Linked DNA regions of Homo sapiens: all the other regions are linked to region 2. Evidence: fine-mapped expression QTL. A gene starts in region 2. Each other region holds a variant in brackets. All regions are shown on one strand. Distances are between the middles of the regions.

Region 1 (6,463 bases), 150 kb before region 2:
CTCCTTGCTCCATCCCTCACTGAGGCCTGTTTCTATCACCCCTGGAATGCTCTCCCATGTTGTGACCTGTCTCCCTGGAGAGGGACCATAATCATTTTAGGCCAACTTCTCAAATAGCCTCCTTTCCTTCTCAATCTCCAGTTAGCAGACACGGGGCAGTGGGACATTCACTGCAGAGGAACAGCTCTGGGTCGGGCTTTGGTGAAGGGGTTCAGAGGGGCACCTGTGGCTTGAGTCTACCCGCAGCTGTCTGGCAAAGAGAAGGGCATCCTGAGGTTGGCGGGGAGGTGACCCATAGGGACCACCTAAAGCCACCTGGACAGGAAGTTCGTTCCAGACCCTGAGAAAAGAAAGGAACAAGGTGTGTAACCCATATAGCATGTGAGCCTCCTTGGGCCTGTCCTGCTCTCCCCCTAAGAGGTCACTGGGTTTCCCACCCAAGGGCCCCCTCCCACTCCAAACATACCCACTCCCAGAGAGAAGTCCAACTCCAATAGCACTGGTGAGTCTGGCAGATTTCACTGAAATGTTCATGGGGAGGTAAAGGAAGAGATGACCCTGCACATCTCAATGCAAAATGTCTTTAAAATCCCTTGTTAATATCTCTGCGTATTCTCCGAGCTCTCCTCCTACTGCAGCTGCCTCATCCCAGAGACACATCTCTGCTCCTCCTCTTTCTCAGCCTCTGCTGCTCCACGGGCTCAATCTGGATCAGGGGCCACATGTGCCTGTCCTGTGGGCCAGGGGCGCATCTGATTCTGCAGTTGACTCACATTCACCGTAATGGCCTGGGGCTGTCTCTGCCCTGGGCCTGAGTCCTCTCTGCAGGTAAAGGTGTTCTTTATGATCGTCCAGTCCACACCATCAATGCCACACTTGCAGGCCCTGTAGCACCCTTCGGAGTGTGGTCCTTCAGCTGCAGAAATGCAGAGCTTCCTATGCCCAAGGCCTCCAGTGCTGTAGCAGGCTGGCACAGGAGAAGGTTTCCCCTACACTGAGCCAACAGTGGACCCTCGACTTTTGGAACCCAAGACCCTTGGAGAGCACAGAACAGTCTCCTCTTTTCCTCTAACAAGTCTTCAAACATCGAACATGCTTTTTCCGTCCTTCACTGACTCAGCTTCTCTCCAGGTGGAAGGTGGGACCCTGCAGTCCTTCCTCGCTGCCGGGGGGCAGGTCCCTCGACACCAGGGCCACCCTCCACGGAGCAGTCACCAGCTTGAGCTGCCCTTCTCCAGAGGTGGTGCCAAGTGGGCTGCAGGGATCTAGTGTGGTCCTGCCACGCAGAGGGCAGCAGTACTGCCCACTCGTTCCCACCCGGGCCCTGTTCCTGCCCACTTCTCCTCCCGTAGGCATCTGTCCCACCATGACAGTGAGGTCCCCGGCTCTCCAGGGCCTGTTGAGGTGCAGTAAATGAAGCCTACTCAGATCAGCTCACAACAGTGGACTTAAACCACCGGCATGGGAACACATCAAGGAACCCAAGAACTGAGGAAGTGTGGGAACGGGCAGTGGGGACCAGACTCTGCTTGGAAGGAGCCACTGCCTTCTCGAGCCACTGCCTTCTCAACCCCCACTCGCCCTACCCAGGGCTGTGCAGATCCTCACCCCCTCTCGGGCCCTCAGGCTCTCATCCTCCCTCTCCTGCAGATCTTCTGCCCCTGCACCTGCCTCAAACACTCCGATGTGCATGGCTGTCTCCATTCCAGTGCCACCATCCAACCAACCAACATCTCTGATCCAATCCCAAATTCCCTGGATTTGAATCTGATTGGATCCCCCTAGATCAAGCCCCCTCTCTCATCCAATCAGTGGTAGCCCAGGAGGGGCACGTCCCAGACATGGCCTTGGGGCCCTCCCAGTGGAGGGTGTGGGTATGCAGACCCCCAGCCATGTGCTATCTAGGCTGCTGACTCCATCCCTCCACCTCCCCACCCCAGCCCCCTGCACTCACACAGTAGACCCCTTACAGGACTTGTCCCCTTCTTCCTGAATCCTCTCCTCTGCCAAGATTGTCCCTCTCCCCAGTCAATGGATCTTGTTTTAATCCTAATTCTGGCTTCCAGTATAAATGCTCTCTCTCCATCCTGTGCTGTTCCTAAATCTGATGCCTGTGTCTGCTGGGTCCCTGGCTAAGCTGAAAACCACTGGCCTAGCCAAGGCTGGACAAGGCCTTGGTGGGGCAATGGTGGTTTCCCACCCAGGGCTCTGGAACCTGGAATTTGACCCACTGGACTAGAGACCTTGTTCCTGCTGCTGTTGCCCCTACCGGCTCTGTCCTTCCCACCACAGCCCTGCTCTCCAATACCCACCCCTGCCTGACTCCCAGCCCCAGCACAGTGCCCAGAACATCCGGGCTCCCCAGTGGCTGCCCCAGGCCCAGTTGCTTTCAGGTGGTGCTGTTCCACCCTCCCCCAGACCCGGGACACACCTCTGCCTTGGAGCCTCCCTGGGGAACCTTCCTAGAAGACAGGAAAGGACATTCACTTCCACTCGAGTTATCCTGACATCAAACCTGGCTGTGCAGAAAGAGCAGGTTCCTTCAGCTGGGGAACAGCCCTGCATGACGGAATTAGTGCCACTCCACGGCGCCTCCAGAAACCATGCCCACTGCCCACCAAGAGCCACGAGGAGTACACCGGGTCCTGAGAATGCACATCCCCTGCGGTGCAGCTTCCCCAGCCAGGAGCTTCGCAGGTATGCCCTACAGGGAGGAGGAGCTCTTCCACCAGCCCGGCAGCCCCCAGGTTTCAGGAACCATTTCAGCCACCTTAGCAGGGCTCATGTTCAAGTTTAGACTAACAGTTTCATGACCACATTTTTAAAAATTCTATTACTAATTCAGCTTCTATGGG[G/GA]AAAAAAAAAAAAGCCCAGCTTGATTTTCTAACTTGGTTTTTCAAGAAGCTGGGTAAGACTTCCCTATCTGACAGCAATGAGTAAATCATTACTCAGCACCTTGGAAGGACATTCTAGAGCTCCAGAGAGCTTTCGGGCCAGGAAGGTGTGCTGGGGAGCTGGACTCCTCTGACCACATTTTCCAGAAGTAAGCCCTTTACCTTGGTCTGCTCAAGGTACCGTGGTGTCGTGCAAGGGTAATGAAGGGACTGCGATGGAAGCCGGGCGGGAGACACGCCCTGGGACAGGAGGCTCAGGCCTCACTCCGTACTCTCTTCTCCACCAGCTGGAGGCCCTCCAATCTCACCATGCCCTAGGGACAGACAAACGGCATGTGACAGACACCCCCGGTGCCCCTCGAGGCACCCACCCCTGAGCCCACCTCTGCCTCAGCATCTTGGTGGCAGGCGCTAGCTGACCTCACACTCCCTGGCCCTGAAAGCATTGGTCTCACACCTGCCTCGTGCGTGTCTCCAGGCACATGGGAGTCTGCCCAGGCCAAGCACACACAGCTGGAAGTGTGGGGGTGAAGTCCCCAAGGGCAAACCTCTGACCAGGGGTGTCGTGAGCCAGTGGGTAAGCTGTCCTCTGCCCTTCCAGTGGACAATTTTGTCCCTACCCAGGAGGTCTCAATGGTGTCAAGCCTCAGGGCCCACAGCAGCAATCTCAACAGCCCTTGTGTTCGTGTTTCCTCCTCCTATTCCTACTCTCCACACTCCCATGCCTCCACTTTTTGGGATCTGCTCCGATAGCCCACCTGCACCCAAGTCTCAGGCCTGGCCTTCCAGGAACCCAAACTAAGATGCCATCTCTCTGCACACCACAGGGACACAGGGCCTCACGCGAGGCTGCCGCTGAGTCAGCTCTCCATAAAAACCTGCCAGAGGAATCAAGGAAGCTCCTGTGTCCTTCCTGGGAGGTGGTCCTTACAGGAAAGTCACACAGCAAATCTGTCATATGAACAGGGTTTCCTGACATGCAGGCCTCTCTCTGCCAGCCTCAAGCTTCACTTCAGCGAGTGCAGTCCCCCTAGGCTGGCGACACTGAGCGCTTCCAGCTGTCAGAGCCCATGGCATTGGCTGCCATCCATGCTGCAATCCACAGGCTATTAAGGGAGGCCCAGAGAGGCCAGAGCTGGGCCTTGTCACTGGCCCACAGAGTTCCTGTTACTACAGTCACCACCCAGACACTCATTATCCCCCCTCTGAGGCCTGCAAATGGCCCTGCCAGGGAATGTGGGGGTCATGATTGCTTTTTACTCAGTATCCGACTCAGGGCTAGGACATGGCTGTCTCTGAGGCTGGAGGTACAGCAAGGAAGGTTCCCACAGGTCCACATCAGAGGCCTGGACACAGATGGGGGCACAGCCCAGACCAGTGCACCCTTCCAAACCCCTTCCAGAAGAGCCCATTGGAAAGAAAAATTGGTCCCTCTGGGGACCCAGGAATTTGGACACAAGTGTCCCCGAGCAGGAGGCAGGGGCACCAGGAGGCCTGCACAGGAGGAAGGAGCCTGGCCAGAGGTCCTGAGCCCAGGGAACCCCTGCTGGCTCTGTCTGGCAATTCCTTTCTCCCTCCCAACGTGAAATGACGGGCTTTGGGCAAGACCCCCAGAGGTGAGTCCAGCTCCGACAACTGTTTCCAAAAACACAACCCCAGAGCACCAGGTCTGGGAGACAGACAGATGCTCCATGGACAAGGTGTTCATTGGTCTAATGTCCTTGAGAAGCCCTGCACACAGGAGGCCCCTCTTGAAGACTGACTTGGCTAAAGGCCCTGAGATGTCCTGCAGCACAGAGCCCTGTTTAACGAGTAGAGTCCAGACTGTCCCTAACTTATGTGACCACAAAAACCTTTTTTCCAAGGACATCTCCTCTTTCTAAAGCACAGACTGAGCACTGGCAGTGCAAGCCATTTGATTGGCTATTACCAAGGTTGCTCCGAGGAGTCTGTCTCCTTGGGATGCAAGGTGGAAAACATCCGCATAGAAAAACAGGTGTCTCCGGATGCTGTTCCTGAGACAATGCTCTAAGGAACAAATTAGGGAAACACCTGAAGCCTTGAGGGGAAACTTGTTTCCACTGGTGATTTATCTGCAGGTGGTCAGGGCGGAGATGGAGGCATCAGTAGCTGCCTGGCCTTCAGCTTTCGAGTCCCTTCTCCCACCAGTGAAAGCAAGGGCTGGGGGAAGACCTCCAGAGGCCAGCCCAGCTCTGACAATTATTCCCCAAACCATGACCCCAGCGGGGTAGAGATGGACAAGTTGAACCCAATATGTCCCAAGTGAATCTTACCTTCCTGGCCCCAAATCTGCCCTTCCTCAGGTGTCCCCATCTCAGGGAAAGCCACTCCCATCTCCCCAGTTACCCCAGACAGAAATATGAACATCATTGCCTTCCCACTCATAACACACCCCATTGCCACTCCCATCTCCAAGTCCTATTAGTGCCACCTGTTAAACAGCTCCCAAACACATCCCCTCCTCCCCATTTCCTGTCACTAGGCACCTTTTACTGAGTGCCTACTATGTGCAGATGCAAAGCCACCACCTCCATTCTGCCCATCATCTCCCGCAAGGAGCATCTGTTACAAAAGCTTCCCCCAGGCAGAGCTCTGCCTGCTCCTCTCCCCTTCAAGCTGCCACGGGAGCCTCCTCCCAAATACAGAGTGGGCCCGCTCCCCTGGGGCCATGTCCAAATTCCTAAGAAGCACACATGGCCCCACATGACAGGGCCATGGTGTCTGCCTCTGTGGCCCCTCTGACACTCATCTTTACCTCGACGCTAAGTGCTGAGAGTGCACACAGGATGAAGATGACAGACTCTTCTGAACAGGAGGGTCCTCTGCGCTCCTTCTCCAGCAGAGGCCAGCGTGTTCTCTGGTCACCTCCTTCCATGCTGTCTTCCCTATGGGCCTCAGCTTGTGCCTGAGAGGCCGGCCCCTCAGCTGCTTCTTGGAGCCTCTCCTGAGCCAGACAGGAGCCCGGGTTTGCCTCCTATGAACATGGCTCGCTTCTTCTTGTGATAATCATCCAATCAACAAACTGCCAACAAAAGTGCCCTACCGCACGGGGCTGTTGTGAGGACCAGCAAGGTAACAGATGCAAAGCGCCATCCTGGCGCATAGTGTGTGCTCAATATATGTTCACTCTCAAGAGTCAGCCCATCTCTGGGCAGTTAACATCTCTGAGCCTCAGTTTTCTTGTCCATAAAATGGGAATGATACCCATACCTGGATCAAGGAATTATTGTGAGAATAAACGCTATAATGACCCTTCAGTGATGTAACTGGCACAAAGGCTCCTGTGATTATTATTACCTCCTACCTCCACCTCACTGCCCGCTGTGGGGAGAGATCCCAGCCCCACTTGTACTAAGAGCTGCACACAGGATGAAGATGACAGACTCTTCTGAACAGGAGGGTCCTCTGCTCTCCTTCTCCAGCAGAGGCCAGCGTGTTCTCTGGTCACCTCCTTCCATGCTGTCTTCCCTATGGGCCTCAGCTTGTCCCTGAGAGGCCAGCCCCTCAGCTGCTTCTTGGAGCCTCTCCTGAGCCAGACAGGAGCCCGG
Region 2 (6,463 bases):
AAATTCACTTTGCATTCCTAGAACCTAGCCCAGGTTGGGCATCCTGTGGGCCTTTATCAGATAAAGAGGTCAGTCTTACTTAGGACTCCTGAGGGAGTCAAGGTAGCAAGTGATCAAGACCATGGGATCACCTATCCCTGACCAGGTTGAGTCTAACTCTAAGAGGGGGTGTTCACTCTCTGACCTCATCTAGAATAACTCATCTCTTCATCAAGAGTTTACTTCATTAGATCTAATGGCCTTCAAAGGTCAAAATAATGTGTTCCAGGCAGCTATCATGCATCTACCTGACGCCCATACTCAGGTCCTGGAAATGAGAACAAATTGCTCTTGGCAAGCTAGAATTCTAACACTGAAGGTTTTATCCACGTAATTAACAGGGTCCTTCAGGCTACCATTACTCCCTCCATCTAGCCCATCCATCTACATTAGAACATACCTACAGTAGAATTTCCACAAAAGGCTGCATTTTGAAGTTAATTTAGCCTATACTCTTAAAAACTATTTTCTTACTCTAAAAGAATAGTCGGCGTAAAGTTGTCCAAAAGCCACTTAAAATATTCAACTTGAGGAGTAAATTTGTTCTTGCTATTTTGACAAATATTTACTTTTCCTGAGGTAACCATTCACAAATACAGGCCTTTAAAAAAAAAAAAAAAAAAAAGTTCTACCAACAGAAGTCTCTTTGACGTAATCAGTATTCTGGCTAAAATTCAAGCCAAGTGCATCATTGGCAAACAACTAGTTTTACTACTGAGAAAGGACCGGGGTCAACTACAGCACATCCTCCACACACATCCAAATTCGTGCATTCATCACTATTTGTAAATGTTTGAGATTTGAAAGGTCCTCAAGAACTCACTAAAGGGCATAAAATATGCACACAAATAACTGTAATAAAGGCACGCTATGGGGATAATACATATTAAGACAGCTGCTTTGAGGGAAAAATGTCTTTTAAAAATGTTTACTATTTAAAGTTATACTGGATTTTTCTTTGGGGGGGGGATGCAAAACTAATCTTAAACACCATGAAAAACTGTAAACCCAAAACTATAAGCTTTTTTTTTTTTTTTTTTTTTTTTCGAGACGGAGTCTGTCGCCCAGGCTGGAGTGCAGTGGCACGATCTCAACTCACTGCAAGCTCTGCCTCCCGGGTTCAAGCAATTCTCCTGCCTCAGCCTCCCGAGTAGCTGGGATTACAGGCGCGCACCACGATGTCTGGCTAATTTTTGTATTTTTAGTAGAGAAAGGGTTTCACCATGTTGGCCAGGCTAGTCTCAAACTCCTGGCCTCAGGTGATCCGCCTGCCTGGGCCTCCCATAATACTGGGATTACACAGGTGTGAGCCACCGTGCCGGGCTAAAAATAAGCTTTTTAATTTAACGCTCGTTTTTATGAAAAGATTCATCTAAAGACAGAACCAGGATATTCTAATGAAAGGAGTCTATTGTTATTTCACATGGCTAAGAGCGATTGATTACAATCTAAAGAACAGTTCCGGGGTTAACTGAAAGAACTAGCTTATCCACAGAAACCCTTTCAATCCCAGAAGGAGAAATTTAGAATTTGGAAACTGAACATTAGTCATTTCTTAAGGTAAAGCCACTTCATTCCAAAGTCACTGTCTGTTCGCCCTTAATTTATCACCGTAATTTATCTAAGAGGTAAAACTGAACACCGAAAAGGTAAGATGTAGAGTGACAAAAGGAGACGGTGGGTCACAGGGCGAGTGCCCAGGTGACTTCGGGCCTCAGTCCTCTCGCCAGCAAAGGGCGGACAATGACCCCTCCCGTCCCGCCCGGGAAGGCGATCGAGGAAACGCACTGGCCAGGCCCATTTACTGATGCTCAGCAGGGTTTGCAAAAAGCCCCCAACGGGAGGTTTTCATGCTGAAAGTCCTGTTGCCCCCCCATCCCCCACCATCTAATTAACCTGCACGTTACTGTAAGGAAGGTTCTGCTTCCGTAATTTTCTTTATTTCGACAGAGGCTGGAGAAAAAAAATCATAGGCTGGAAGAGGGGAGCGATGGGCAGGCCGATCTGCAGGGCGCAGGAGCAGGCCGGGAGGACCCAGCCCTCCAAGGCTGCATCAGCGCCCCCGCCGCGTGACCAGGGCCACCGGTTTACTGCACAGCTCCCCCGTCCCCAGAACGCAGCCTCCCCGCCAACCCCAGGAACCAAGGGTGCCCAAAGGCCTCCTACCCGGAACCCCGGGGCGCCTCGGGGTCTCTGGGCCGGGTGGGCCGAGTCCTGGCCTCCACAGGCCGCGAGCGCAGGGGGCGGCGGCTCCGCCCGGTCTGGCAGGCGGGGCTGCCACATCCTCAGCCTCTCCCTGCCGCCCGCCCGTCGGCCGCTCTGGGCTGGAACCAGGACTCCGGCCTGCAAGCCGTGGGTCGCCACGCCCCTGCCCCCTGAAGCTGCGCGCCGGCCGGAGACTCCAGGGCGCCCGGGTCCGAGCCGCCCGCAGAGTAAACGGGCCGCTGAAGCGGGGCTCGTTCCCCGGCCGAGGCCCAGCGCGCCCCCTCAGCCAGCATCCCCCGAACCCGGGCCGCGGCCACCCCGCGCCCGCCCGCCTCCCCCGCCGCTGTCAGGGAACCCCGGCCAGGGCCCGAACCAGAGCCCCAGGACAGCGGCGCCCAGACGGTACCTGACAGCGCCTGAGGACAACCGGGTACACGCGGCGTCTATGAAGCGCAACAGTGACGCCGGAGAGTCACTGCAACTTAAAGGCTGATTCTGCCCCGCCCCCAAGACACCCTCGCCGCTCATTGGCTGGGGCGGAGGGCAGGATACCAATCGCGTGGGTCCCGTCCTCCGCCCCGCCCTCCGGCCGCGCATCAAGGATCTTTGCTCCTCCCGCGGATTCGATCCGCGCTCGCGCCTCCTGAGCCCGCCGGCCTGTACCTGAGCTCAGGCCCCTCGGTCGCCTCCTCTGGCGGGACGAGAAGAGTCCTTGTCCGCCCTTGCTGACGAGAAGACTGAGGCCCGAAAAGGAAAAGTCTGTTGGGCCCCCCACTGCGCGGGCCGGGTGTGGCTGGAGGCCGAGAGACGTGAGGCTGGACCGCCCGCCCTGTGCTCCTGGAGGGAGGGACCAGCCCCAGCTCTGCCCCAGCCACAGCTGCGGGAGCCCCATGCCCTTGAACCCTGATGCGCCGCGCGGCTTAGTTGTGCCTCTGAATCCACCTCCAAAAGTCGTCGCTGCCTATGGAAAACACACTGCCCACCTGTTCGCAGCTGCTGTCAGATAATTGAGTGGCAGCAACCCACTCACAGTACAGATTTGCCTGTGGTGCCCTCCACAGCCGGTTATTAAATTCAGAACACAAAATAGATATTCCGGGACAACCTCATGTTAGAATCGGAAGGGACTTGGACTTCACTTAGCCCACAACAAGATGTTAAATATTGGAAAACAGAGACCCAGAGAAGGAAAGCGACTTACCCAGTCATCCAACAGTAGGGGCAGTCTGGTCCTGTGTGCCCCTCGCCACCCCTCTCAGAGGGCAGGCGCTGGCAGCTGCCGGCACCACACTCCATTAGACCACAATGACCAGTCGGGGGCCCAGCTGGAAACAGAGGGCACACTCCAATGTGAACATTTCCTAAAACGTGGTGGTGGGGGCCCGTGGTTCATGCCTGTAATCCCAGCACTTTGGCAGACCGAGGCAGGAGGATTGCTTGATCCCAGGAGTTCCAGACCAGCCTGGGCGACACAGTGAGACCCCGTCTCCACAAAAAAAAATAAAAATTAATCTGGTGTGGTGGCACACCTATGTTCCCAGCTACTCCAAAGGCTGAGGTGGGAGGATCACTTGAGCCCAGGAGGTTGAGGCTGCAGTGACCTATGACTGCACCACTGCACTCCAGCCTGGGCAACAAAGCAAGACCATCTATCTTAATCAACCAATCAATCAATCAATGTAGGCAAGTAAACCACAAGGGATGGAGAAATAACCTGGGTCTCATGCACCAGCGAGGGCCATTATCCATCCTAGGCCCAACGGCCTCCAAGTGGGGTTTCCAGAATTCCAGAACCCAAAGAGAGGAGTGTGGGAAAGGCTATCTGGTCACCAAAGTCATCAGCAACTGCATGGGAAGGAGCTGGACAATGAGCATCTCCTGTCAGGCTTCCACATGGGCTGAAGCCATTAGGAGGCCAGAGGCCAGGGGAGCCCTTTAAGACAGCTCAGCCTCCTGGGACAAACAGCAGGGTGGAAAAGGGTGGAGACGGGGTAGGGGAGCAATTGGAAGACATCCAACATACATAACTGGCTAAGATAAGTCTTAGCTAAGCAGAAAGTAAAGTCCATGCTAAATGGTAGGGATAAGAAAGTGATATGGGTGCAGAGCTGTGAACAGCAGAGCCAGTATCTGCAGATGTGCAGAGCAAGACACCAAAAGGGATTCAGTCCCCCTGGGCTCCATCTGCCCTATACCAAGGTCACTCTCTCAGACTGTTGTGGCCATGGGCTCTCCAGAACTCACTGAGAGCAGAACATTGCCTTTTATTTCTTTCATGTTCCTCCACAGCACCCAATACAATGTGATTAACTTCCTGGAAGTTAGGTTATTCTGCCCAAGGGGTCAGAAAGGAATGGTTTCTCCATGGTCCTGCTCTATAAACCTGGGCAGGTATGTGGGGCCATGCCCAGCTCTTGGAACTCTTATAGAGCCCAAGACTCCCGAGTTATGCCTTGTCAAGGAGGAGCAGGTGAGTTCAGGAGAGGCACATGACACCCAGGATCCAGGGGTAACATAAAGTATGTTACAATGTCTTTGGGCTCACAGATAAGGTGCTCTTTAAGGAGTTTCATATGCAAGAAGTTGCTGGAAATGTCTGGGTTTTATCTCTTTCCTCTTATCAGAAAAATGCAATAGGTCCAGAAAGCATGATAACATTTTATGGTCTCTGTACTAGAGTTGTTTTTCAGCATAATGTGGCCTTGACAGAGAGACCTGAACTTGAAAGCTGCTTCTTTTCAACCAAGAAACAGAGCTGCTTTATTTGTATGTATTTTATTTGTTCAATCTAGAAACATAAAGGTAAAGTGCACATTACAAAGATTTTTGAGTCTCTAAAAACTATTAATAATTCAAGTAATTAACTATATGGGGACCATAAAACCTGAGGATATAAAGAGTGGCCCTCAGGCCAGGCACAGTGGCGCATGCCTGTAATCCCAGCTACTTCGGAGGCTGAGGCAGGATAATCGCCTGAACCCGGGAGGAGGAGGTTGTGGTGAGCCAAGATTGTGCCATTGCACTCCAGCCTGGGCAACAAGAGCAAAACTCCATGGCCCTCATAACAGACATCCAAGACCTAAATTCATTTCATCAGTTCATTCGACAAATGTCCTTTGAGTGCCTCAGGTGCCTGACCTTGCGAGGGGTTTCACATCATCAGGCAACACCATGTGAGTCCTTTTTGTTTGTTTGTTTGTTTGTTTGTTTGTTTTTTGAGACAGAGTCTCGCTCTGGCGCCAAGGCTGGAGTGCAGTGGCATGGTCATGGCTCACTGCAACCTCTACCTCCTGGATCCACCCATCTCAGCCTCCTGAGTAACTGGGACTTCAAGCGCATGCCACTACGCCCAGCTAATTTTTATATCTTTTTGGTAAAGATGGAGTTTCACCATGTTGTCCAGGCTGGTCTTGAACTCCTGGACTCAAGCAATCTGCCCACCTCTGCCTCTCAAAGTGCTGGGATTACAGGCATGAGCCACCATGCCCGACCCATATGAGTCTCTTCAGTAAGGAGGGAGAAGTTCCAGAAATGCTCCTTTAACAGATGTGAACAAAAATCTTGCGACATTGGTCATCTAAAAAAGCTGCAACTGTATTTTAAAAAAGGAAAGAATCATTGATTTTCTTATACAGACAACTCTCTAGTATTTAGTGGCCAGAAAAACAACGGGTGGGCTATGCAGATCTCTTGCTTTGCGTTGCTTCCTTTATTGTCCCACTCGTCCTGACTTCTTATTAGTATAGTCTGCATATACCTGGGCTTCAAATGATTAAAAAGGAAAATCCAAGCTGACAGCCAAGGAGGAAAACTGATAACGACACAGAGAAAATAAGTGTTTGGTGATTTTTAACCTGCAGGAGAAATTTTGTTTCCCAGATTACATTCACCCTAAAAAGATGTCTTCGCAGCAGAAGTCTGGGCAACATGTGTAACGCATCCTTCCTGCTCCCAGTGCACCAAGTCAGGACAGGTATTTAGGTCTGGTGGAGAGCAAACCTCCTTTAAGTCCAGAAAGGCAGGGATCTGGAAGGAGCAAGTTAAGCAAGGCATCGAGGACAGTGGGAGAGTGATCGATGGTAAACGTTCTGAACTGGGAATGATAGACAGAGACTCAGAAATGTTGCCGTTCGTCTATGGGTCCTCATATGAGGCTGTGCCTGACGGGAGTATTAATTTTTCTCTCCCGGAGCCAAGCTCCACCTACGAACTCAGGCTG
Region 3 (5,880 bases), 48 kb before region 2:
CAAAGTGGCCATAACCAGGGTCCAGTGTAGCGAGATGAGCCCTCCTGTTGATGCAGTTCCAACCCAGTTATGTTGCCCAGGGTGGTCTCAAACTCCTGGGCTCAAGCAGTCCTCCTGCTTTGGCCTCCCAAAGTGCTGGGATTACAGGCATGAGCCTGCCCTATTGTTATTAATAACAGTGACAGCTACTACATATCCAACATTTATTAAGTGGTTTAGAGAATTATGTTTTTCCCTCACAAATAACCTATGAGAGAAGAATGTTGATATCTATAGAAAGCTGAGACACAGGGAGGTTAAGAAACTTACTGACGGTGCAACCTTAGGCAGATAGTGGCACCAGGTCTAAAACATGGGCCTCATTGGCAGCCAGTGACCACATGCCTGGTCACTGGGCAGGAGCCTGTCGACAGGGTGGGTTTGTGTGAGCTGGCAGAAACAGCTTTGGACTTGGAATAGGGACACCCTGGTTCCACTGAGCTCTGACACTCACTTTACAACCTCTGGACATCTCCATGAAATGGGGACGCAGACCCTTTCCCTCCACTTCCCAGGGCAGTGAGGGGGATTGGAGAGGCTGAGCCAGGGGAAGGGCTTTGCTGGCAGTGGTATCCAAATAATGGCCCCCAAAAATGCCCAGTCCTAATGCCTGGAACTGAGCCTATGTGACCGATATAGTTCGGCTGTGTCCTCACCCAAATCTCATCTTGAATTGTAGCTCCCATAATTCCCACATGTCCTGGGAAGGACCTGGTGGGAGGTAACTGCATCATGGAGGTGGGTCTTTCCCATGCTGTTCTCGTGATAGTGAATAAGTCTCATGAGATCTGATGGTTTTATAAAGGGGAGTTCCCCTGCACAAGCTCTCTTGTCGGCTGTCATGTAAGATGTGTCCTTTGCGCCTCATTTGCCTTCTGCCATGATCATGAGGCCTCCCCAACCACGTGGAGCTGTGAATCCATTAAGCCTCTTTCCTTTATAAATTACCCAGTTTCAGGTATGTCTTTATTAGCAGCATGAGACCAGACTAATACAGTGTCCTTATATGGTAAAAGGGACTTCACAGGTGTGATTACATTAAGGATCTTGACATGGAAGATTATCCTGGATTATTATTCAGGGGCCCAATGTGATCACAGGGGTCCTTATAAGAGAGAAGAGTTGGGGCTCAGAGGCAGAGAAGGAGATACGACCACAGGAGCAGAGGCCAGAGAGATGCTCTTTGAGGACACAGGAAGAGGCCAGGGGCCAAGGCCAGGGCAGCCTCTGGAAGCTGGAAAAGGCAGGAAACAGACTGTCTCCTCGAGCCTCTAGAAGGAACCAGCCCTCTGATACCTTGATGTTAGTCCGGTGAGACAGATTTGGACTTCTGACCTCCAGAGCTATAAGATAATTAATCTGTGTTGTGTTACATCACCAACTTTGTGGTAATTTGCCATGGAAGCCACAATGAACTCATAGAGTGGCTCAAACACCCATTCATTTGGGAGCAATTCCATCCACAACTGTGAACTCTGCGGATTTCACAGAAGTGTCTGCTTTGGTCCGGGCAAAATGATTACAAATTCTACTCTTGCAGAACAGAAAAGAGGCTTCAGATAATTCTGTTCTACTTCCTGCAGAGGGTTTAAAGAGTAGGAGCTGAAAACTATATAACTACTGTAAACGACACCAGACTCTTCCTGCTGCCCCCAAATCAAACATATTTTCTTCTCGGAGAGTGATTTTAAGGTGTTTTCTGACAAAACCAGCCCTATTCAGGTGGAGGCCGCTGCCCACCACCAAATCACCCCATGTGCCCATGGACTCTGCCACTGGCCAGGGCCAGGCTGAAATCACAGCTCAGGGAAAGGAGCCACACTGGCCAGGCAGGGCAGCCAAGGGCTCCAGGCTTTGACAGGATCGAGGGTTCGAGGCTGCGGGGCAGGGAGCATCCCAAGAGCTGTGAATATAACAAGTCATCTGTGCACACAGGATGCTGCCCTCTTATATTAATAAACCTGACGGAAATTGTATAGGCTGTGGAAGGAATCAGAGGCAAGCAGACGCTTCCTCATCAAACTGCGCACACAACAGAAAACGGAGTCCACGTGGATGTTCCCAAACCAGGGGAGACTGTCAGTGCTTGACCATAGGGTTTGTCCTTCTCCACCAGGGTCCAAGCACAGGTGGACTTGGTAAGCAGAGCCTCGACAGACCTGCCCGCATACTGACACCCCTGCCAGGGAAGCCCCTCAGTGCAGCGGGGGGCAAAGCGAAAACGGGAAGTATCAAGATGAGGATTCCAGTCCCTGCTGTGAGCCAAGGCCGTTTCTGGGCCTCAGTTTCCCCAGCCACAGCCAGAATCAGCTGGGGTACGTGACCCAACCTGAAGGTCTGGGCTTCCCTACCCAGGTCCCCAGGCTCAGGACTAGCTCCACCTCTCTCTGCTCACCTCCTCACAGATGTGGCCCCAGCCCAAGCCAGAGCTTCCCCAGCTCTCCCCACTCCCTGCTTCCTCTACCCCAGATTCTGAAAATGGAAGCTCCTTTCTGCTTGAGGCTCTCCAGCTCCTCCTTGCTCCTCCATCTCCTGGAAGTCCCCCCAAACTTGAACTTGTTTCTTCACCAATGGCCAAAGGAAACTTGATTCCTAACTCTCCTCATCCCTGGGCTTTGCTCCCTCTTCTTTGTTTTCTTTGGAATCTTTGCCCTCTGTCTTAGTTCGGGTTCCCCCGAAGACAACCAGAGCTAAGAACTTGGATGCAGGTAGTTTATTTGGGAGGCAGCCCAGGAAGCACAGGGAAGATGGAAAAGCAGAGAGGGTGATGGGGGTTGAATCATGTCCCACAGAAAGATGTGTCAAGTCCTGACCCCGGTACTTGTGAATGTGACCTATTTGGAGATAGGGTCTTTGCAGTAATTAAGGGTTAATGTCTGATATGGTTTGGCTGTGTCCCCACCCAAATCTCGACTTGAATTGTAGCTCCCATAATCCCCAC[G/A]TGTCGTGGGAGGGACCCAGTGGGAGGTAATTGAATCGTGGGGGGCGGGTTTTTCCTGTGCTCTTCTCTTGATAGTGAATAAGTCTCAAGATCTGACGGTTTTGTGAAGGGCAGTTCCCCTGCACTTCTCTCTTGCCTGCCACCATGTAAGACATGCCTTTGCTCCTCCTTCACCTTCTGCCATGATTGTGAGGCCCCAGTGCTGATGGCCTCCCAGGGTTCAGGAATGTCCAACTGGACTCTGTTTTCTGTTGTGTGGGCAGTTTGATGAGGCAGGGTCTGCTTGGCTCTGATTCCTTCCATGGCCTATATATTTCTGTAAGGACATAGAGCCATGTGAAACTGTGAGTCCACTAAACCTCTTTCCTTTCCCAGTCTCAGTTTATGTCCTTATAGCAGTGTGAGAACAGACTAAACAAGGTCTTTACATGTAGATAAGTTGTAAGTTAGGATCCTGTGATTGGGATGAGCCCTAAATCCAATATGACTGGTGTCCTGATTTGAAGAGGAGAAAAGACACAGACACATACACAGAGGAGCATGCCCCATGAAGGCACAGTCACAGTGGGAAGACAGAGACAGAGATGAGAGTGGCATAGCTGCAAGACCACAAATGCTGAGCACTGCCAGCAAGTACCAGAAGCCGGGGAGAGCATGGCCCTGGGCTTGTTACTCAAAGCCACCCAGTTTGTGCAGCACCCCTAGGAAATTAATACTCCATATACATATTAACACGCACACACTCTAATGGTTCTTCTCCTCCAACTGAGACTTGAGTGACACATGTCATTCTCTTTGGCCACCCAGCATCCTGATATACCCCTTCCCCACTTCATGTATCAGAGGAAGGGAGAAACCCCAACCCATTATAAAGCCTGAAAATGCCAGAAACCTACCTTCACAGCCTCCCTTGCAGCCAGGGAAACAGACATTTGATAAGGGTTCTGCCAATTAGATGCATGTGAGAGCCAGTAACAAAAAGTCTGTCACTGTGTGGATGCCAGGTTGGGGGTGTTGGGGTAGCAGAGATACCCACTGTCAGTTCTAGAGGCTTCCAGAAATGGGTTGAAGCAGTGATGGCCAGTCCTTACACTGGTGGAGTCAGCAGCACATAAGGGTGTCAGTACCCATCAGAGGTCTCAGGGTATCTCCCCTGGTCCTGCAAAGTGATTTTGAACATTATTTCCAGGCTACATAGCCTTCAAACCTTGTTGTCCAACCTATGCAGAGATCCTGTGAGCTGCCTGATATCCCTTAGTACATTTCTGGTTTGCTTTAATGAGCAGAAATTAGCCGCAGCTGCTTGCAGCTATGCTCCTTGATTGGCATGCAATTTCGTGCACACAGCTCTTCCCACTTTTGCTTGCAGCTCCTCTAGGATTCTGGTGGGAAGCTTTGGAGTGAGCCAGGAACTGGTCTCGAGGTGACCTCCCACTTTCAAGGCTGGGCTGCTGGCTCTCTCCTCTTTCCCATCAGCAAAGTGAGAGAGTGGTTTTGAGTATAGGCTTCAGCGGCCACAGTCATGGGTTAAGATCCTGGCTCTTTGGGGGCTCTTGGGCGAATTATTTAGCCTCTCCGACTTTTTTTCCTGTTTTTTTCTCTCCCCTCCTCAACTTCTCTGAACTTTTATCTGTGAAATGAGAATAATAATACTGAGGATTTGTGATCAACCTCAGGATTTGTTTTCTCCCCAAAAATGCTTCCTTCCTTCCTAGTGATAGGGCCTGTTCTTTCTTGGGGTGAATTCACTCGTGACTCATTCAGGGATGGGGATGGGTCTCCAAGAGGCTCATCTAAGTGTCCCCAGGATGTTTCTGGTTAAACAGGACCAACTGTTTCGGGTGGAGTGGGTGTGAAGGTTGAGGTGCATCCTGGTTGCAGGCAGCTATCTCTGCCATGATGTGGAGAGTGCCTCTTGGGGTGACCCAGTCTCTAAATGCCAGCTGGGGACAGGGGGTTCTGATGACACCTTCCAGCTCCTGGGTCCAGCTGGGCTTGAAGTTGCATGAAAATCAGCCAGTCAGTTTTCTTTTCCCTTCAGCTGGTGTAAACTGGGTTCTTCATCTCCATCGAGTCTCTGAGCAGGATTCAGTGAGAAAACACAGAGTTGCTGAGCATGGATCCCAGGGTAGAATCTGCCAGGTTTTCTTTTCCAGGACACATGAGGATGCGAGTAGACTCCAGGTGGCTGCCAGGAGTGCCCCCAGCCTGCCAGGCATGCCCAGGCCTCAATCTCAGGGCTAGATAAAGCTTAGATTCAGTCTGGGGCCCTGGCTACACACAATTTTGTATTCTACTTCACACTGTGTTGTGGTCGTTTTTCCATATCATCAATATTCTTTGAAGGCCTGATTTGTCATGTCTAACAATCCAAAATGAGGATTTCTCATAACTCTTTTTAGCCATCCTCTACTGTTGGACATTAAATTTGTTTCCCATTTCCCACTTTAGAAGTCGTGCTGTTAAATCATGTTTGTGTACAAGTCTTTGACTGTATTGTAAATTACTTTCCTGGGATGGATTTCTAAACATGGAATGACTAGGTAGGTCATGGATGTCTTTAGAGCTCTTGATACCTTTGGAGATGCTCAGTTTTGAAAGAGCATCTGCACCCTTTTTTAAATGCATCATTCCACTGTCAACCAATCTTCACTGCCAGAAATTCTTCCACGGCTACCACTCATTTAGTGCTGTGGGCTAGGTACTGTTGTAAGCACCCATTTACAACAGCCAATTGCATGGATAACATTATTGTCCAGTTTTAAAGATGAAGAAGCTGAGGCTCAAAGAAGGTTTGCAACTTGCCGAAGACAGCACATCTAGAAAGAGGGAAAGCAAGGTGTGCACTAGGTTTGTCTGCCTAAATCCTATGCTGTTCTGCCTGAAACCTTCTTGGGAGA
Region 4 (6,463 bases), 38 kb before region 2:
GAGGGCAGGGGAAGGGAAGAATAACTGGGCACTGGGCTTGTCCTCTTGAAGACTGCCAACTCCTGCCCGCCCAACACAGCCTAGCCCCAGAATGTTTATTGCAAACCTGGTGGCGTGGAAACGCAGATGCCATTTGGGGAAAGAATCAGCCTTCACGGGAGGGAGAATGCAGTGAGGAGGGATGGAGGAGGCCTGAGTCCAAGAAGGAAGAAGGTTATGTAGACGAGGTCAGATGGAAAAGGGTCAGGACAGATGCAAAGAAGATGCTGGGTGTGGCCAGTGGTGCTGACGCCCCTCTTGGCCCACCCAGGCTCACCAGGGGCAGGTGGACAGTACACCTGCCCACCCACGCAGCATGAGGGCCTGTCTGCTCGACATCTGCAGAGCCAAGGGTGGCCAAGAATGTTACCCTTCAAGTAACCATGGAAGGTAAGTTAACTTCAGTCCTCCCAGACTCCATGGTGCCCACAGTGCCCAATTTTGGAAGGATAGTTATGCAAGGATATGGACAGAAGGCCCGGAAAGAAAGCTGCAAGCCATCTTCAGGAGCTCTATCTGCCAGACGGGATTATGGATGATTCTACCCTCCTTCTGTGTATTTTTCTATTATTAAGAGGTTTTCAAGGAACATGTATTACTTTTATATCAATTTTCCTTCAGCCCCTAGTTCACTCCAAGCAGATCTACTTGATGGGCAAAGCCACAGCCGAGGGAGTCTGAGCTGGGCAAGGCCCGCCCATTGGCACCCGGAGGTATTCCGTAGGCAACCAACGAGGCTGCTTCTCTTGGCCTTTCTGACACCGAGGGCGTACCTGAGGCTTGAAACTTCCAAGAGGTTTAGTCATCAATCTCTAGCCTCCCGCTGGCTGTTCCCGATTGTCAGCAGAGATCTCAGCGTGGGGAGCTGGCAGGCAGGCATCCCTCATTCAGGAGGCATTTGCCAAGAACGGTGAGGGGGGAGTGTCTCGCCCCCTTTAAGTATCAAAAATCCCAGGCGCTGTGTGTACAATCCCCTCCCTGGCCTTTCCAAGGGTGGCAGGAGTCCTAGTCCAGTGAAAAGACTGTTGAAGAGGGAGGAGATTCCCTGCTGCTGAGAAGGCCTTGCAGGGAGCAACAGGCTTGCCCCAGGGGCCGCTGGTGCCAGCCAGGACGGCCCATAGTGGATCCAGCTTCTCCCCCAGTCCATTCAGTTCCACAGCACAGGCCGTGGAGGGCCTGCCCAGCCCCCTCACTGCAGGAGTGCAGATGAGTGGCAGGTGGCCATCCAGTGCCTCCTGGCCCTCGGCTTGGGGACCAAAGGGGTTTCCCATAGCTCAGTGCACGTGCCCCACTCTAAGAGCCAGATTCACAGCAGGTATCCAGGAAGGTTTATAATTGGGTACCTTCCAACTGATATTCTTCATCTATTTGTTCAAACGTATTTGTCGATTGCAGGAAGGAACCAGTGCTGCCTCCACTGTGTGGAGGGTAAAGGCTTGATGACATGGGGCTTTCCAGCCCGGCAACTGCCATTGAGGCACTTTGAGAGGCTGTTGATTTCTCTCCACTTCCCAGAGCCTTGCACGGTGATGGGGGCGGGGTCTTTTTACATTTTGCCAATTCGGCTTATTTTCTGTGGTGCTGTTGTGTCCTCAAAGGTTGAGGTCCCGGGGAATTTTGCCTGGCTGGCTCCCTTCAATCTACTCTGCCCACTCTGCAGCCAAGCAGAAGCAGCCATGTCCCACCACCAACCCCTGGGCCTGACTCCCTTTCCCTTGAGGGTCACACTCCTCCCAGGCTGCAAGGCCTGATTTAATGGCACCTCCTCCCTGCTCCTCCCGACTCCCCTGCTCCTCCCCTGACTCCCCAGCTCTTCCCCACCTCCTCTGTGCTCTTCTCCTGACTCCCCATCTTCTCCGTGAGCCTCCCCTGACTCCCCAGCTCTTCCCCATCTCCTCCATGCTCCTCCCCTGACTCCCTGTGTCCTCTGTGCTCCTCCCGACTTCCCAGATCCTCCCCATCTCCTCGGTGCTCCTCTCCTGACTCCTCAGCTCCTCCGTGCTCCTCCCCTAACTCTCCAGCTCTTCCACGTTCCTCCTCTGACTCCTCAGCCCCTTCCCATCTCCTCTGTGATCCTCCCGACTCCCTAGCTCTTCCCTATCTCCTCCATGCTCCTCTCCTGACTCCGCAGCTCCTCCGTGCTCCTCCCGACTCCCCAGCTCCTCCCCTGAATCCTCATCTCCTCCATGCTCCTCCCCTGACTCCTCATCTCCTCTGTGCTCCTCCCAACTCCCCATCTCCTCCATGCTCCTCCTGACTCCCCAACTCCTCTCTGCTCCTCCCAACTCTCTATCCCCTCCATGGTCCTCCTCTGACTCCTCAGCTCCTCCCCATCTCCTCCATGCTTCTCCCCTGACTCCCCAGCTCCTCTGTGCTCCTCTCCTGACTCCCTAGCTCCTCCCAGCTCCTCTGTGCTCCTCCCGATTCCACAGCAACTCCGTGCACTGCCCTGACACTCCAGCTCCTCCTCTGATGCCCCAGCTCCTCAGTGCTCATCCCCAGCTCTGTCCCAACCACTTCTTCATCCTGACTTGTATGAGTTTTGCTGTTTTTGTCTCTCCTCCCCCACGACTTTGAGATGCTATCTGTCTTTTCTTAGCTTTCATTCTCTGGCCCCTAGCTCAGATCCTGGCACTGTAAACA[C/T]CCAATAGACCCTGGTTTGATTTCGAATTGCTCATCAATTTCTGAAAATAATGCACCTCAAGCTTTTCTTGGCAGTTGTCTGCAAATTGATTCAAGATGCCCAGCCAGGCAGGGGCAGGTGTGCTGGGGAAATCAAGGAAACCAACATCCATCCTGCTGGGAAGGCCTCCCACACTCTGACTCATCTGGTTTTCCTTCACACGTGTATTTGCGGGAAACGAACTTCTGTGCTTGAATAAATATGCGGTTCTTTGTAAACATCAACGTTGTAAGTGCAATAAATCACTGGAAACAAGAGGCACCTCTCGCGGTGGAGAACAGGAACGGCTTTCGCAAGCACTATCGGAAAGAAGCAGCGACATCAATAAAGCCGCCCGTCAGAGCTGAGGAAAGAAATCAAAGCCCTTCCTGTGGAGGACACTGTTTAATTGATGTCGCATTCAGGGGATTATGGACTATGATCAATGCAAACTGGACTGACCGAGAGAACCCTGAGCACGGAAGGTTAGCTGGGTGTCCCGGGCTCCCAGCCAACCATGTCAGAGCCAGAATGGACACCCAAGGACAGTAAAGACAAGACCCCATCTAGAGTTGGAAGCACCCAGAAGCCTCTGTCATCACCCTGCCCCAGCAATGCCACAGATGGGTGCCCCCTGGCAGAGCCACAGAATGTGTAAAGCTAAAATGAGTGTCCCGGCATCCAGGGTTCTCTCTGTAGTACCCGCCTCAGCATCCCTGGCCTCATACACAGCAGGTACTCAATAAAGGTGGCTGAATTATGGATTCTCAACTCCCAATGCTGGCAGTGGGTCAGCACTGAACACATAATCCCAACTGCATGGTCTGGTGCACTCCAGGAAAACAAACCGGTCAACAATTGTCACTAGAGGAAGTCAAGACTAGCTCAAGGTAGTGGACGGTACATCTCTTCATCGACTTGCTGATCCAATTGAATCTTCTTGCTTTGATCACTGAAACTTTGCTCCAGGGGTTTTCAACCCTGGCTATGCTGCAGAAGCACCTGGAAAGTCTGTTAAAATATGCATGTAGGCCAGGGGAAGTGCTTCACGCCTATAATCTCAACACTTTGGAAGCCCAAGAAGGGGGGATTACTTGAGGCCAGCCTAGGCAACATAGCAAGACCTCATTTCTAAAAAAAAAAAAAAAAAAAAAAATTTTGGCCAGGTGTGGTGGCTCATGCCTATAATCCCAGCACTTTGGGAAGCAGAGGCGGGTAGATCACCTGAGGTCAGGGGGGTTCGAGACCAGCCTGGCCAACATGGTGAAACGCTGTCTCTACTAAAAATACAAAAATTAGTCGAGCATGGTGGTGCATGCCTGTAGTCCCAGCTACTCCAGAGGCTGAGGCGGGAGAATCACTTGAACCAGGGAGGCAGAGGTTGCAGTGAGCCAAGATCATGCCACTGCACTCTAGCCTGGGTGACAGAGCAAGAATCTTTCTCAAAAAAAAAAGAAAAGAAATTTTTTTTTCTTTTTCTTTTTTTTGGAGACGGAGTCTTGCTCTGTCACCCAGGCTGGAGTGCAGTGGCACGATCTCGGCTCACTGCAAGCTCTGCCTCCTGGGTTCACGGCATTCTCCTGCCTCAGCCTCCAGAGTAGCTGGGACTACAAGTGCCCACCACCATGCCTGGCTAAATTTTTTGTATTTTTTAGTAGAGACGGGGTTTCACCATGTTGGCCAGAATGGTCTCGATCTCCTGACCTTGTGATTTGCCCACCTCAGCCTCCCAAAGCTCTGGGATTACAGGCGTGAGCCACCGTGCCCGGCCAGAAATTTTTTTTTAATTAGCCAGGCATGATGACACACACCTGTAGTCCCAGCTACTCGGGAAGCTGAGGCGAGAGAAGTGATTGAGCCCAGAAGTTTGAGGTTACAGTGAACTATGATCACACCACTGCACTGCAGCCTAAGTGACAGAGTGAGTGAGGCCCCGTCTCCAAAAATAATAATTATATATGTATATATACACACGTATGTGTCGGGCCCACCCCAGACAAGGCATACAGATGTTGTAAAAGTGGCCACATGTCCCTGGAGTGCTCCAAAGACTGAAGACCTCTAGCCTCACAGAGGGCCAGAGTGGTGGAACCCTGCCCCAGCTCTGCCGCCGACATCATGTGAAGTTGGTGCTAGGCAGACTCTTAGCTCCCTTGTCTGTAAAACAGACATCATAAAACCCTAAGGGACCAGGCGTGGTGGCTCACGCCTGTAATCCCAACACTTTGGGAGGCTGAGGCGGGCGGATCACCTGAGGCCAGGAGTTTAAGACCAGCCTGGCCAACATGCTGAAACCCCGTCTGTACTACACATACAAAAAAAATTAGCCAGGTGCGTGGCGGATGCCTGTAGTCCCAGTTACTCAGGAGGCTGAGGCAGGAGAATCACTTGAACCCAGGAGGCAGAGGTTGCAGTGAGCCAAGATCACACCACTGCACTCCAGCTTGGGCAACAAGAGCGAAACTCTGTCTCAAAAAAAAAAAAAAAAAAAAAAACTCTAAGCCCCCACTGACCAAATAGGTCCACCCCAAGCACAGGAATCCACTCTACAGACTTACAAAGCAGCTGCCAGTCACAAATATTATTTTTATTTGTGTAAAGAAGCATGAATTTGCTCCACGACACTCAGACTCAATAAATATCTCATTTGAAAGTTTTTCTAAATAAAATTAAATCTAGCTGAACTCCCTGACACACCCCAACCTGGCCACCTTGCCTGACTGAGGGCCCTCTCCCGACTCAAGCACAGTCTATGTACCACTGAGTCAGCTGCATGTGCAGCCCCAGGCAGGCACCTCACCCACACCGCCAGCCCCTCTGGCCAGCATGTGGAATCAACAGCTATCACTCTGAGTCTTTGCGATCCTAAAAATGACAGACATAGTTCAGGGTCTTTATTTTTTTTTTTTTTCGACCCTGGGTGACAGGGTCTCACTCTGTCACCCAGGCTGAAGTGCAGTGGTACAATCGTGGCTCACTGTAGCCCCAATCTCTTGGGCTCAGGTGATCCTCCTACCTCATGAATAACTCAAGATAGTGGAGGGTACATGTCTTCATCTGCTGGCTGATTCAGTAGGCTCATCTACTCAGCCTCCCCAGTAGCTAAGACCACAGGTGCATGCCACCACTCTGGCTAATTTTTTTTTTTTTTTTTTTTAGAGATGGGGTCCCACTATGTTGCCCAGGTTGATCTCAAATTCCTGGGCTCAAGCGATCCTCTTGCCTCAGCCTCCCATAGTGCTGGGATTACAGGTGTAAGCCGCTGTTGGGCTAGCTCTCCGGTGGCTGAGGAACTCACATTTATTTCCAGAATCTCCCTGGCCACTGATCCTTCATTTAAAACCAAAGCAGAGGCAAGGAACCAACAAAGTTGAATTCCTCTGCAATCAGGACACCTGGTGGCCCTTCTGGGCTCCATTCAGCCTCACAGGACCCCAGCCAAGACTTCTCTCACCAGAATGAAAAACCTGCCAAGCCTCGGAGGGCAGGATCCCAAGGGACAGCCTAAGAAACAGCAACCCACTTTTTCAATCCAAACTGTGAATTGCTTTAGGAGCAATCTGCTAGCTAAGCAAAGCTTTTCCATTTTTCACCTGTCTAAGAGCATTCTTCTGAGTCCTTGAGAGGGGACCGATGGGAATCCCAGCTCTCCCTTCATCCTCGTCACAGAATAATTCACACACAGGAATTCACAGGGCCAAGGCCCCAGTGAGAGGTGAGGGGCCTGCAGTAGGGATGTCCCCAAACTCCCCTGCCTGATGC
Region 5 (6,463 bases), 170 kb before region 2:
CCACCCCCCCACTGACCCAGAAGAGCAGTGAGGCGGGGCTCTCTCAGTTCTCTCAGGACCGATCCTCACGGCCTCCCTTCATCTAAGGTCAGGGAAACACTCAAAGGGTAGACGTTAAGGCTCTGGAGACATGTGACCAGTCGTGGGGCTCTGTGCATACCTGGCCAAATCTCCTGATCCCACTGTGCCTCAGTTTCTTCATCTGTAAAAAGAACATCCTAAGAGTACCGACCTCACAGCATTGTTAGAAGGACTGAGTTAGTTAGGACCACGCCTGACACAGCACATGGGTGGACAGAATGCTGGACCTGAAAGACATCCACGTCCTAATTCCAGGTCCTGTGAAGATGTTCCCTTACATGGCAAAAGGGACTTTAGAGATGTGATTAAATCAATGATCTAGAGACCGGGGTGGGGGGAGGGGGCAGTTATCCTGGACTAGCCAGTGGGCCCAGTGCAATGTAATCCCATGGGTCCTTACAAGAGGGAGGCAGAAGCGTCAGATAAGGAGAAGTGAGGACAAGCAGAGGTCCAAGCAAGGCAGGCTCACGAGCCAAGGAGGGCCACCTCTAACAGCTGGGAACACCAGGAATCGGATTCTTCCCTGCAGCCCCTAGAAAGAACCAGCTCTGCTGACACCTTGACTGTAGCCTAATGGACCAATTTGGGGCTTCTGGCCTCCAGGACTGCAAGATAACAAAATCATGTTGTTTTAAGCCATTACATTTGTGGTAATTTGTTCCTCGCATGATAGGAAGCTGACGCAGGGCACTGGCGTTATCATTATGATTAACTACAGGAGCGCTAGTGTGGGCTGGGCCTCTCACTGTACCCCGGTGATAAGTCAGGCAAGCCCTGGCCCGAGAGGACCCCTCAGACCAAAGAGAGACAGAGGCGCATCCTCGGAACAGCGGAGCGCAGGAAGGTTGTGACTGTGACTGGCGGGGCTGAAACAGTGGGGCTCAGAGTAGGGCAGCTGCTCCACAGACAGGCTGGGGAGGAGCTTCAGCTCTTCTGCTCCGTTCACACCTCACCACCCGGCCTGGAATCGTACCCACCTCTACCACCCAGTTGACCCAGGACACAGCCCAAAGCCCCAGCCGATCTTCTTTACTCCCAGGCCCTGCCAAGTGACAGTCTCCTCCATGTCCTCCACCATCTTCACACGCCTCTGGCATCGTGGGGTCCCCTCCCGGGATGGGCTGAGTTATTTCTCATTATGCAGCCATCGTCCATTTGACCGTGACTGAGCAGCGCTTGCTGGGAACTCGGTGGAAGGGGATCTGGATTCAGGTCCGGCTCTGCCCGGGGAGGGTGGGCCGGGCAGCCCCACTGCTTGTCTAGAAGGCAAGGTGAATGTCCTTGCTGGTCTCCAGCACTCCTGGAGCTCCGGCCTTCTGCAGGGCAGAGTCTAAGCATCTAGTGTGGTTTACAAAGACCCCCAGGATGTGGCCCCGCCACCTCTATGCCCGGCTCACACCCACACATCTGCCCTGGGCAAGGGCTTGCTTTTCTGCTAACACGCCAGGGCGCGTGCCCACCCTGTGATGCTTGGCCTCACTGCCCGCCAGCCCCCACCCATCTCCTGTCCCCTTTCCCCGCTGTAGCTAGGTGACCCCATGGAGCTCCCGCAGGCCCCTGCATCTCGGCACTCACCACCCAGGCTGTCCTGGACAGTTGACCAGAGACCCCCACCAGCAGTGGGGAGCCCCCTGCCTGGACCCCTGGAGCTTGGTAGAGCAACAGGCACACAGGAAGTGCTTTGGAAATGGTGAATGAAGGAACAGGCAGGGGTCAGGCTTGGATGTCCCCATGTCCCACCGTGCCAGCGCTCATCCTGTTATCCCTTAACACTCCAAAGGTGAGTCCAGAGGCCCCACCTCAGAGCTTAGCAGAGACATGGAATCTCAGCCCCACCCAGACGAGCGGAATCAGAATCTGCACTTCAAGAAGAGCCTGGCGACTCCCAGGCAGGCTCGAATTGGAGAAGCTCTGTTGCTGGATGGGAAGGAGGGCTTCCCATCAGGACATGCGGTCCCTGAGCTAGTAGGGTCTCGGAGAAGGGAACCTGCCAAGGTCATCCAGCAGAATGTTGCTAGCTGGAGCCAGAAACCTGGTCTTCAGGCTCCAAGTGCACTGCACCTTTGAGGAAGGTGACCCCAGAATACAAACAGGAAGGTGACCCCAGAATACAAACAGGAAGCTGCCCTGCCCAGCCAGCGGTCTTCTCTTCCTCATCAGGACCTTCTCTGATCTACTTGGGAGCTGGGGAGAGCAGGTAGATGGTGGGCCCAGGGAAGGACAGTGCTGCACAGGCCGGGTGACCAGGGAGGCTCCCTGCCGATTGCCTCCCTAAAGTGGAAAAGACACAGCCGGGCTGGGCGCGGTGGCTCACGCCTGTAATCTCAGCACTTGGGGAGGCTGAGGGGGGCAGATCACCTGAGGTCAGGAGTTCGAGACCAGCCTGACCAACATGGAGAAATACCATCTCTACTAAAAATACAAAATTAGCTGGGCGTGGTGGTGTAAGCCTGTAATCCCAGCTACTCTGGAGGCTAAGGCAGGAGAATCACTTGAATCCGGGAGGCAGAGGTTGTGGTGAGCCGAGATTGCTCCATTGCACTCCAGCCTGGGCAACAAGAGTGAAACTCTGTCTCAAAAAAAAAAAGGACACAGCCAACAGTGTGGGGCCTCCTCCCTCTGCCATTGGCTGCTCTCAGAGCCAGAGGATGGACAGATGCAGGGACTGCAGGAGGATGCTGGGGGTTGCAGGGGCTTCTGCAGGAAGCACAGGCTGAGCTCCAGGCTGTACCAATGGCAGCGCCAAGAGCCTTCCCAGACAAACTTCCTCCCCTCAGCCAAGCCAGGGGATGTGCGCCTGATGGTCACTGCCCAGGAAGGCACCTCAGCTGCAGAACTAGGACCAGAGGATGTTTCCAGGCCGAAGAGCACGTCCTCAGGCCAAACAGGATGGCTTCCTGTGTTTGCTGATGCAGGATGTGTGCCCCTCACTGCTGGGAATGTCACTGACTCGTCACAACAGAAAAACAGCAGATAAATCCACCTTCTGTCCAACCTGGAGTGATCTTGGAGAGGTCTGCATTCAGCCATGCTGTGCCTGCAGATGCACTGAGTGGGGCTGTCCCCAAGTCCTCCGACCCTCCCGCCGGACCTCAGGGAGCCCCGGCTCTGAGGCCAGTGCCAAGTGCAGCCCGAGGTTGAGGGACCGGATCTTGGAGGCTGAGAGCCCACTCCATCACCTGCCTAACACCTTCATGCCTCAGTTTCCTCATCTGTAAAATGGGGCTCTGAATAGGACCTTCCTCATAGAGAACCATGGGAGGATTGATTGAATGAGAGCTTTTTATGTTAATGATTAGAACAGTGTCTGGCATAGTACACACTTAAAAAAAAAAAAAAAAAAAAAAAAAAAAACCAAGACCGGGCAAGGTGGCCCACACCTGTAATCCCAACACTTTGGGAGGTTGAGGCAGGCAGATCACTTAAGGTCAGGAGTTTGAGACCAGCCTGGCCAAGACAGTGAAACCCCATCTCTACTAAAAATACAAAATATTAGCTGGATGTGGTGGTGTGCACCTGTAATTCCAGCTACTCTGGAGGCTGAGGCAGGA[T/G]AATCACTTGAGCCCGGGAGGCGGAGGTTGCAGTTAGCTGAGATTGTGCCACTGCACTTCAGCCTGGGTGACAGAATGAGATTCCATCTCAAAAACACATAAAAAAAAAAAAAAAACCTAGATACTTCCATTATGATGATTACCTTATTATCTCCTTAGTTCCCAAACTGGAAACTTCTCATTCCTCTTCTCACTCACCCTCATGCTGGCCCTTGCAGTGGGAGACAACAGGAGACAGGTCACTGTGGTCACTGTGCCAGCTCTCCACCATGCACTCCTCCACTGCAGGGGCCAGCAGCTTCTGAAGTGCCCCCCCGTGATCCCCACCCCCTGGCATTTATGTCCTTGAAAGTGGACTTGTCTTAGTGACTTACTTCTCATGTGTAGGACCCAGCAGAAGTACCAGAACATCACTTTGGGATTAGGTTATAAAAAGACTGCAGCTTCCGTCTTGCCCTCTCTTGGATGGCCCACATTGGGGGAAGCCATCTGCCATGTCATGAGCCAGCCCTATGGGGATGTGTATGTGAATGACCTCCCCAACCAAACCTTGAGAAGGCTGAAGCCCCAGCAACCCCTTGACTAAATCATCATAAGAAACCCTAAACCTGAACTTCTTCGGTAAGCTGCCCCTAGATTCCTGACCCACAGAATAGTGAAATAAATGTGTGCAAATAAATGTGCACCTAAGTTTTGCGGTAATTTGGTATGCGGCTATAGACACCTAACACACTCAGCAAACTCCTACTCATTGGTCAAGACCCAGGTGAAATGCCCCCTCCTCCATGAAGCCTTTCAAAGTACTTTGTACTTGTACTTATCCCATGATCAGTTCTCACGCTGTTCTGTCATTTCAGTTTACAAGACAAGCCTGCTCCCACCATGAGGCCTTGATCTCCTGAAGGGTAGGGACAGGGTCTTGGTCATCCAGGCCAAGCACAGAGCCTGTCAGTCAGTCAGTCAGCAGGACCTCAGTCATTGTTTAGTCAAAGAATAAGTGACTTACACAGCAGCCGCCACCCTACAGGCCACCATCTTGCACACTTCCCTTCTGGCTCCAGGAGGCTGCCTGGTGTGCTCCACCTGGAGTCCACAGGCTGGCCAGCTCGAGCTTGGGCCCAGTCCTTACATCTGCCCCAGAGGAGGTGACAATGATTTCAAAGATCATACCAGCGCACACCCAGCCTCCCACCCAAGCCAGCATGCCCCGTCACCATGGTCAGTAAGAGTCCCCAGGGCAGGGCCCAGAGGGGTAGAAAGGAGACAGCTTTCTTGCTGGATGTGTCTGTCACTCCAAGTGTGGGTTCCTTCCAGTAAGGAAGGACAGCTCTCCATGCCCTGCGCAGGCAGTGAGTGGGTGAGAGAGAGAGGAGTGAGCGGGCAAACCGACAGATGGACGGATGGATGGGCGGTGGGACCACAGACTGGATTCCTCTATAGACACGCCAGGCCTTCAGCTCAGGTGCAGCACAGCTTCCTGGCATGCGTGCTGGACTAGGGACTGGGTCCTCACATCCACATCAAATGCCTGCTCCCCAGGGACACTGGGCAAGTCCTCTCCCTGTGTGTGCCATGCCCTTTGACACACAGCCTCAGGTCATCCCACAACACGCCCAGGACTTGCCATCTCACAGATAGGGAGAGTGAGGTGGACGGAGGCTGAGCAGCTTGTTCAAGGTCATGCACACAGTAGAGCCAGGAATCCCTCCATGGCCAAGTGGGCCCCTGACACTAGATGCTGGCCAGGGTCACCAGGCGACCTGGACATCCCTCAGCCTTTCACAACACCACTGGAGTGGGTTGAAGGGTGATCTCCAAAAAGACACGTCCATGTGATAGCAGAACCTGTGATTGTGACCTTATTGGGAATTTTTTTTTTCTTTGCAAATGTAGTTTAAGGACCTCAAGATGAGATCATCCTGCTTTAGGATGGACCCTAAATCCAGTGACACACGTCCTTGTGAGACACAGAAGATACACAGAGGGGAGGGCCAGGGGAAGACAGAGGCAGAGACAGGAGTGAGGTGGCCACAAGCAGGGAAGGGTGACTGCCCGCAGCCACCCCAAGGTGAAGAGGCTAGAAGGGGTTCTCCCTGCAGCCTCCAGCGGGGCGTGACCCCACCGACACCTGGAGTTTGAACTTCCGGCCTCCGGAACTGTGAGAGAATGGATTCCTATTGTTTTTAGCCACCAACTTTATGGTGATTTGTTGCCACAGCCCTGGTAAAATAATGCAACACCTTACATAGAAAATGGCTATTTCTGCAGCACACTCAGGTACACTGAGGCTGCTTATGCTGGACACTCCCAGCCTGGGGGTGTTGGCTGCCACCCCCGCAAGCCTCACCAAGGGCTGAGATATCAAAACACCCAGGTTTTGGCACCTGATAAAACACCATGTCACCTGAAAAGCCCTGGCTCAGAAACTCCGCCAGGAGCATCCTGAAGTGTCCACGTCCCTCTCGCCCACGTTTTTGGTGCACTGTGACTCTAATATGCTTCATTGGTAGTTGATTTTCCCCCACTGATTTTAAGTGAGGGTTTGGTGGAAATGACAGCCATGACCCCCACCCCGATCAGAGTGGACAGCTGGCTCAGGGTATCCTGGGGCTTGGCAGAACTTATGCAGCAGTGTGTGACCTGGGGGCATAGGTGCAGAGATGGGGTGGCGAGTTCCCTGAGGTTTTGGGCGGAACACTGGCCAGGGGTTGTCCAGCCACAGTCAGCCTCAGCCATTTCCTGCCATCCATCCCTATCCCGATTAACCTCCCAGGCAGGGACAGGTGGTTTCCACCTGTCGTTGACATTGTCGTCAGATATTAACTGAGGTG

Direction of the effects. Alleles are on the strand shown, and positions count from the first base shown. SD is a standard deviation of normalised expression in the study named. Not every link is listed here.
As copies of T replace G in region 5, the expression in monocytes of the gene that starts at base 2,701 in region 2 goes up (moderate effect, 0.68 SD a copy in Schmiedel 2018).

The links.
Region 1: its variant is fine-mapped to the expression of OAT in monocytes after R848 (Quach 2016, PIP 0.95).
Region 3: its variant is fine-mapped to the expression of OAT in whole blood (TOPMed, PIP above 0.99).
Region 4: its variant is fine-mapped to the expression of OAT in whole blood (TOPMed, PIP 0.99).
Region 5: its variant is fine-mapped to the expression of OAT in monocytes (Schmiedel 2018, PIP 0.95).

The regions. Positions count from the first base shown.
Region 1 is chr10:124,263,675-124,270,137 of GRCh38, forward strand. No RefSeq gene overlaps it. Among named protein-coding and RNA genes, the nearest start is that of OAT, 150 kb to the right of the region's middle. RefSeq lists an enhancer at 6,130-6,463. The variant G/GA (reference allele first, on the strand shown) is at 2,856.
Region 2 is chr10:124,416,223-124,422,685 of GRCh38, forward strand. OAT (ornithine aminotransferase) reads right to left here and starts at 2,701. Exons shown (of 10, transcript NM_000274.4): 1 at 2,651-2,701. RefSeq lists silencers at 2,261-2,800, 2,743-3,402 and an enhancer at 3,376-3,890.
Region 3 is chr10:124,368,788-124,374,667 of GRCh38, forward strand. No RefSeq gene overlaps it. Among named protein-coding and RNA genes, the nearest start is that of OAT, 47 kb to the right of the region's middle. The variant G/A (reference allele first, on the strand shown) is at 2,981.
Region 4 is chr10:124,378,200-124,384,662 of GRCh38, forward strand. No RefSeq gene overlaps it. Among named protein-coding and RNA genes, the nearest start is that of OAT, 37 kb to the right of the region's middle. RefSeq lists an enhancer at 1,117-1,834. The variant C/T (reference allele first, on the strand shown) is at 2,683.
Region 5 is chr10:124,243,091-124,249,553 of GRCh38, forward strand. No RefSeq gene overlaps it. Among named protein-coding and RNA genes, the nearest start is that of CHST15, 150 kb to the left of the region's middle. RefSeq lists an enhancer at 4,439-4,939. The variant T/G (reference allele first, on the strand shown) is at 3,633.